Linked DNA regions of Homo sapiens. The protein of the gene in region 1 interacts with the protein of each later gene in a pairwise test. Each region holds a gene or a part of one and is shown on either strand. Other genes may lie near its edges.

Region 1 (3,652 bases):
CATGTGCGGCCCAAGGTTTTGGAGACGAGTGTGGACCTGTGGTAATTGCAACAAGCACTTCACTTTGGGCTTCATGCTGAGTACTTTAGCACTTTAGCTATATTCTTCCTGGTCTGCTCAGAACAACCACTCTGAGATAGGTACTGGCAGCAGTTCCATTTCATAGGTGAGGGATGGAGGCTCTGAGATTCCGGGTAATACATGCAAAGCCAGCGAAGCTGGGTGGTGGCTCAGGTGTGTCTGTTTAAAAAGCCCATTCTAATTGCTGTGCTCCAGTCCCCACACACTTTGGTGGCGGCAAGGAGCTCTGGGGCAGGGTGTGTGGTTGAGGCTGGAAGGAAGGCAGAAAAGAACAGGCCTAGGGCCCCCGCTTGCACACATTCTTGCCTGTGCTGGTCTCAACTTTGCTGCTTCCCATGTTCCCACATGCCACTCTCTACTGAATCCCATCTCCCCGCAATTCAGAAAAAATAATAATCTGTGTTTGGTGGATTAAAACAATCTGTTCACCCGAATTCTTTTTTCTGATTCTTGAAATAATGTTGACATAGAGTAGTTCTTTCCTCGTTTTGCAAAGGGAACATAGCTGCTCAAGATCACACCACTGGTAAGTGTCTTGGGATATTAAACACATGGAATTTTAAGATTGGCAGGAGTGAATTCTTCATCTAGTCCAGTGTTTCCTAAACTTCAGTCATTTGCCTACGACTGTGATAATTTCACTCAATCCATATACTACGAGCACTATTATTTACTTAAAATACTTAAAAAAATCATCAACTCCCTTTTTGTTTTAACATAAATATGCTAATTAAAAGGAAAACTTTATATTAGCAATATAAATGGAAAGTCAGGATTTTTTAAACATACATAAAAATAAATATTTAAGCATTTGAATAAAAATGGTTCATGCGCCACCTAAATCAGGGGTTAGCAAACTACATCCTATAGGCAAAATGCAGTCCCTCACCTATTTTTGTAAAGCCTGCAGTTAAAAATAATTTTACTGCTGGGCGCAGTGGTTTACACCTGTAATCCCAGCACTTTGGGAGGCCGAGGCGGGTGGGTCACTTGAGGTCAGGAGTTCAAGACCAGCCTGGTCAACATGGTGAAACCCCCGTCTCTACTAAAAATACAAACATTAGCTGGGTGTGTTGGTGCATGCCTGCAATCCCAGCTACTCGGGAGAGTGAGACAGGAGAATCGCTTGAACCTGGGAGGCAGAGGTTGCAGTGAACCGAGATTGTGCCACTGCACTCCAGCCTGGGCGACAGAGCAAGACTATGTCTCACAAAAAAATAAAAAATAAAAAATAAAAAATAAAAAAAACTTTACATTTTTAAGTGGTTACATTTTAAGTGGTTATATAAATATTTACATCATATCCTTGATTTTGCCTTTTGGCCTGCTAATCCTAAAATACCTGGCCCTTTAAGAAAAAGTTTGCAACCCCTAACCAGATTCATCTGGCATGTTGCCAGTTGATGTGAGTACCACGTGTTGGAAGATACTGAGTTAGTCCAATTTCCCTCCTCGCCTCCACCATTTTACAGTTGAGGAAGTTGAGACTCAGGGAATTTGTGTAACTAGCTCAAGGTCACATAGCCAGTGGATGCCAGAGTTAAGTGGCAGGGAGGTCCTTAGTTTTCTGACTCTCAGCCCATCTGCTTCTCTTTCTGAAAACACAATTGAGCCCCAAGGCACACTTATATAGCAAATCAAACCTCAGTACTAAGAGGGGCAGGATTGTGTGATTCTGAAACCAAAGGTCAATTCTTTGCAGATGCTTGAAAATCTCCAACCACCATCATCATCACCATCAAATGTGCATGAGACGCCGGGTGCGGTGGTTCATGCCTGTAATCCCAGCACTTTGGAAGGCCAAGGTGGGCAGATCGCTTGAGGTCAGGAGTTCGAGACCAGCCTGGACAACATGGCGAAACCCCGTCTCCACTAAAAACACAACAATTAGCTGGGCATGGTGGTGCACACCTGTAATCCCAGCTACTCAGGAGGTTGAGGCATGAGAATCACGAACCCAGGAGGCAGAGGTTGCAGTGAGCTGAGATCGTGCCACTGCACTCCAGCCTGGGTGACAGAGTGAGACTCTGTCTCGAAAACAACAACAACAACAACAAAAACGTGCATGAGAACTCCTCTCCAGATGTAAATATATAACCGAGTTTGAATTCTGACACTTAGGCACCTTTTCTGGGCCATCACCCAAGAGTTTCCAGACTCTGCTGGGAAGTCTCTTTGCTGATGCCTGGAGAGGGTTAATGTGCTCTGCAGATTATCGTGGGCATGGATCTCCTCCTGGGAGCCCAATCAAACAGATGTCAAGGCTGCCTGGGTTTGGGCTGTGATTTTCCCACGGATTGGCTGGTTTTATATCCTGAGTGAGGGGGGCAGGGAGGGGGTAGGATGCTGAGGGATGGGGTGAGAGGTTATGAGGAAGGGAAGGGCCTCAGGAGCTGAAAGCCACTTCTGCTTTCTGGACTGGACTTCAGAAAAGTTCCTTTAAGTGAGGGCTGAAGACAAATATATCCCTTTTCTTCTGGGCCAGAAGGCTCAGAAAACTAAAGAAGAGGATGGCAGGCCTGTGATATGACCTTCTTTGGGTTGGGAGAAAGGAGAGGTGAATTCCACACGGAAGAAAACAGAAAACAGTCCCCAGGTCTTCAGTGTCAAATAAGGAATCCATCAAATACAAAACACGACAGTGGGAATGAGATCTTCCTCATCTATGCCTCACTAATTGCTCTCAAAAGTCATTGGGTATTAACAAAAAAAAAGGTCATTTGGTAAATTGAATGGCATTATATAAAAACTAGAAATATTTTTTGATCAATAGTATTTTTACCTCTTTTAATATTGTTATTCTTTCTCCTCTTTATACCGGCCTACTCACTTGATCTGTAATCTCTCTAGTGCTATACACAATGCTGTATCTGATTCCCTTTGGTAATTCCTTCTAAGGCAAATTATATCCATTAAGTTTTTGTAAAGGGCCTTCTCAGGTGTACAGCATGCTATTTTTCTTCTGTAATTATTTCTTGCTTTTGGAAAAAATATCTTTTATAAAAGCAGAAAAAGGTGTTTTTTTTTTTTTTTCCTGTTACAGCAGGAGTGGGTGTTATTAACTCTGGGCTCTCCACAAAAGACCTTGGCTACTTAGCCAGCATGCAGTAGGTGTGAGAGTTCAAGAATAATGGCTGCTTTGTATTCAGTAGCCTCTCTTCTCTAGGCCCTCTAAGGTCCTTGCAATAATTGAACATTTTAGCTCTTAAGGACTTCTTTAGTGGAGGTAGAGCAGGATAGGTGTGAAAAGGCAGATGTCCAGAGCCCCCTTTCTCAGAAGTAACACTGAGGCCCAGGGATATGTGAACACAGGCCTGAGGTTAGGCCAGGCCTGCTCAAGGGGGGTGATATTGCCCCCCTCTTTAGGGAACAAAGATGAGTTCTTGGGGATCAAAAAACTGAGTTATTAATTACAGTGTTTTATCATGCTCCAAAGGTCTACAGTAGATGTATAGTTTATCTCTGGTACTCACATTTCTGGTGGGGAGATGATTAAGAAAAAATGACCTAAAAAGTGTCCTTAGGAGAAGTGATAAAAAAAAGGTGGAGAAGCGCTGTGATAGATCCACCT
Region 2 (3,354 bases), on another chromosome or scaffold:
TTTGCCTTTGGGCAATTTCCGCCAGAACCTGGGTGGAGGAGGGTGGGGTTCCGGTGTTGAAATGGCATCCTGGACAGACATAAACACCCCACCCACTCTGCCCACTGGCAGAGTTGCCTACACCAACTCCCATCTCTGGGGATGGCAGTAAAACAAGGGGATGGAGGCAAGGGCTAGGGGAGATACTCTTTCAAAAGGATCATTTGTAGTTCCTACTAATTTTGTGGTAAGTCGAAGAGAAGATTCCATATTAAATTGCTGTGATGGGCCATCCTTGTGGTGAGTGGTCTAAGGTCATGCAATTTGAGGTCATACAATCCTATCCTCTGTCCTTCTTTTTCTTTCTTTTCTTTTTTTTTTTTTTTTTTTTTTTTTCCGAAACAGAGTCTCACTCTGTCGCCCAGGCTGGAGTGCAGTGGTGCGATCTTAGCTCACTGCAACCTCCGCCTCCCGGGTTCAAGCAATTCTCCCTGCCTCAGCCTCCTGAGTAGCTGGGATTACAGGCGCCCACCACCAAGCCTGGCTATTACTTGTATTTTTAGTAGAGATGGGGGTTTCACCATGTTGGCCAGGCTGGTTTCGAACTCCTGACCTCAGGTGATCCACCTGCCTCAGCCTCCCAAAGTCCTAGGATTACAGGTGTGAGCCACTGCACCTGGCCGTTTTTTTTTTTTTTTTTTTTTTTTGAGACAGGGTCTTGCTCTGTCACCCAGGCTCTCGAGTGCGGTGGCACAATCATGGCTCACTGCAGCCGTGACCTTTCAGGTTCAAGTGATCCTCCCACCTCAGCCTCCTGAGTAGCTGGGACCACAGATGTGTGCCATTATGCCTAGCTAATTTCTGCATTTTTAGTGGAGATGGGTTTTCACCGTGTTTCTCAGGCTGATCTCAAACTCCTGGGCTCAAGCAATCCTTCCACCTTGGCCTCCCAAAGTGCTTCCCCTCTCCCATGTTTCCTTCATCCTAGCCTGCTTCCCTATACTGATATGGCACGGTATGTCTGTGTGCGTGCACATAGACACAATGTCTGACCGTAGAGATCAGGAAGACCTTGCCAAATCTACTTGGAATCTCTTGCTGACGGCAGGGAAAACAGATGCAAGGAAGGTGGGTGTCAGGGAATAGGGAGGTAGCATGAGGAGAGGGACTGACAGAAGAAGATAAAGACACGGGTGAGGGTTTGCTGAGAATTCTAAGCTATCCAAGCAGAAAGGGACCTCCAAGGTCAATTTGTCCAACTCCCTGGTTTTACAAATGAGGAAACAGAGGCCCAGAGAAGTGAGATGGCTTGCCCAACATCACACTGCTGCTTTGTGGCAGAGCTGCAACTAGAACCCAGGTCAAAAGAAAAGGGACTGGAGGGCAGTGTATATTCAAGGCTCTAAAGAGACATTGCCCAGAAGGAGAAAGAGAGACTGACACTCCACAGAAAGAACTGATGAATGTAGACTTCCAGTAGAGGTTTGGAGTATGAAGATACAGGGGCAGGAGGGGAAGGTGCCTAGAAGACATTATAGTCAGGTAGAGTCAGGTTCTGGACCTCATCCTGCTATTATTTATCAGCTTCAGTCTCAGTTTCTGATGTACCTTTAGAATCTTTGTGAAAACCAGTCTTTTTTTTTTTTTTTTTTTTGAGACATAGTCTAACTCTGTCAGCCAGGCTGGAGTGCAGTGGCGCGATCTCGGCTCTCTGCAGCCTCCACCTCCTGGGTTCAAGTGATTCTCCTGCCTCAGCTTCCCGAGTAGCTGGGACTACAGACATGTGCCACCCCACCACGCCCAGCTAATTTTTGTATTTTTAGTAGAGACGGGGTTTCCATGTTGGCCAGGCTGGTCTCGAACTCCTGACCTCAGGTGATCCACCTGCCTTGGCCTCCCAAAGTGCTGGGATTACAGGCCTGAGCCACCGCGCCCGATGAAAACCAATCTTATAAACTAAGCTTGCAATACCAGCACAGTTCTTAACAAGTGCTTACTAAGTCTTTACTAAGGTTATATTACCTCAGAAGAGGAAAGACTTCTGATTGTATGGGTTAAGGTATGGCCCAAATGACCCTGTGAGGACACAGGACAGAGGTCCAGTGTCTCCAGAGCCCATTCCTTCTGTGCCTCTGCTGCCTGCAACTGATAAACCTCTTATCTGGCCCAGGCAGGGGAGCCCAGGGCCAGGATAGGAGGAGAGGGCAGAGCTGCTATCAACCACCAGGCCTGGGCCATATCTTGGAGAGGAGGAGGGGCTGTCTGCTTGCCTCTTTCCACAACTTGTTCTTGGGGATCCTCAAGCATATACTGTCATCATCTTGGAAAGAAAAGGCTGAGAACGTAAAACTGAGGACAGAGGAGGAAAGCAGGGTGACCCCTGATGTTGCCCTAGAAAATGGAAAACAAAACACAGCAAAACAGAAAAACAGAAGATCTGACTCTGCCTTTAGCCAGGAAAACAGTTTGGGGGAGTAAAAAGTATTAGGGAAAAGAGTGGGCATTTTGCCTGGAAAAAAGGTAAAGACCTCCTGTGCTACCAAAGGAACTGACTGTGGCCATAGTTGGCGAGGTGGAGATCACAACACAGGAAAAGACTTTCCATCTTAAGGGATTGATGAATCCAGCATGAGTGAGGATGGGGAGGAGGCGGTCTCTCCTTCCCTCAGGGGAAGCTGGAGGGAGCCCCTCCAAGGAGGTAGTGCAAACTTGCTGACCCTAGCAGGTGTAGCTCTAACACCTCTTTTCCTTTGACACAGGTTTCTAGAGCCATCTGGGCTTTCCGGGAACCTGGACCAGACTCTGGCCCAGTAGGATGTCCCCGTGTCCTCCCCAGCAGAGCAGGAACAGGGTGATACAGCTGTCCACTTCAGAGCTAGGAGAGATGGAACTGACTTGGCAGGAGATCATGTCCATCACCGAGCTGCAGGTGAGTAAGGGGGGATAGGGCAGGGGAGGCCGTGTGTCGGAGAAGAGAGAAGCAGGGAGTTGGCCAGGACTGAGGCAGAGGGCAGGAGCAAGCAGGGCTCAGGGCTGGTAATGCTCCAGGCACTGGGAAAGGAAGGGAAAGATCCGGATGGAAGACACTGAGGAACGTTGAGGAGGAGGAGTGGAGGAGCAGTGGTGGGGAGGGAATGATCTGATTGGGAGTGTAGGCTCTCTCAGCAGCCACTTGACTCACATCTCTCTCTACCCCACCTCCTGCTCTCCCTCCCGTGCTCACCTTCTTCTCTTCTGACCTGCCTCTCTGATCCTGCCATCTTCTTCCCTCATTACCTCCGCCTGCCCTTGGCAACTGGGCCCGTTTACCCCAGGTAACAGAGCAGTAGTTCAGGGGCCTCAGGAAGGGGAGTCGGACTATGCCAGGGTCCTCTC

The links. The genes of interacting proteins can lie anywhere in the genome.
Region 2: the proteins of ELF5 (region 1) and NFE2 interact in a two-hybrid assay, tested with the Homo sapiens proteins (one large-scale study listed by BioGRID and IntAct).

Annotation. Positions count from the first base shown.
Region 1 is NC_000011.10:34,507,213-34,510,864, forward strand, and holds part of ELF5 (ETS-related transcription factor Elf-5), read right to left. Parts: intron 1-3,652. UniProt on the Homo sapiens protein: Transcriptionally activator that may play a role in regulating the later stages of keratinocytes terminal differentiation. Isoform 2 binds to DNA sequences containing the consensus nucleotide core sequence GGA[AT].
Region 2 is NC_000012.12:54,294,689-54,298,042, reverse strand, and holds part of NFE2 (transcription factor NF-E2 45 kDa subunit), read left to right. Parts: intron 1-94; exon of another isoform or gene 95-279; intron 280-2,284; exon of another isoform or gene 2,285-2,499; intron 2,500-2,738; 5' UTR 2,739-2,794; coding exon 2,795-2,908; intron 2,909-3,189; exon of another isoform or gene 3,190-3,293; intron 3,294-3,354. UniProt on the Homo sapiens protein: Component of the NF-E2 complex essential for regulating erythroid and megakaryocytic maturation and differentiation. Binds to the hypersensitive site 2 (HS2) of the beta-globin control region (LCR).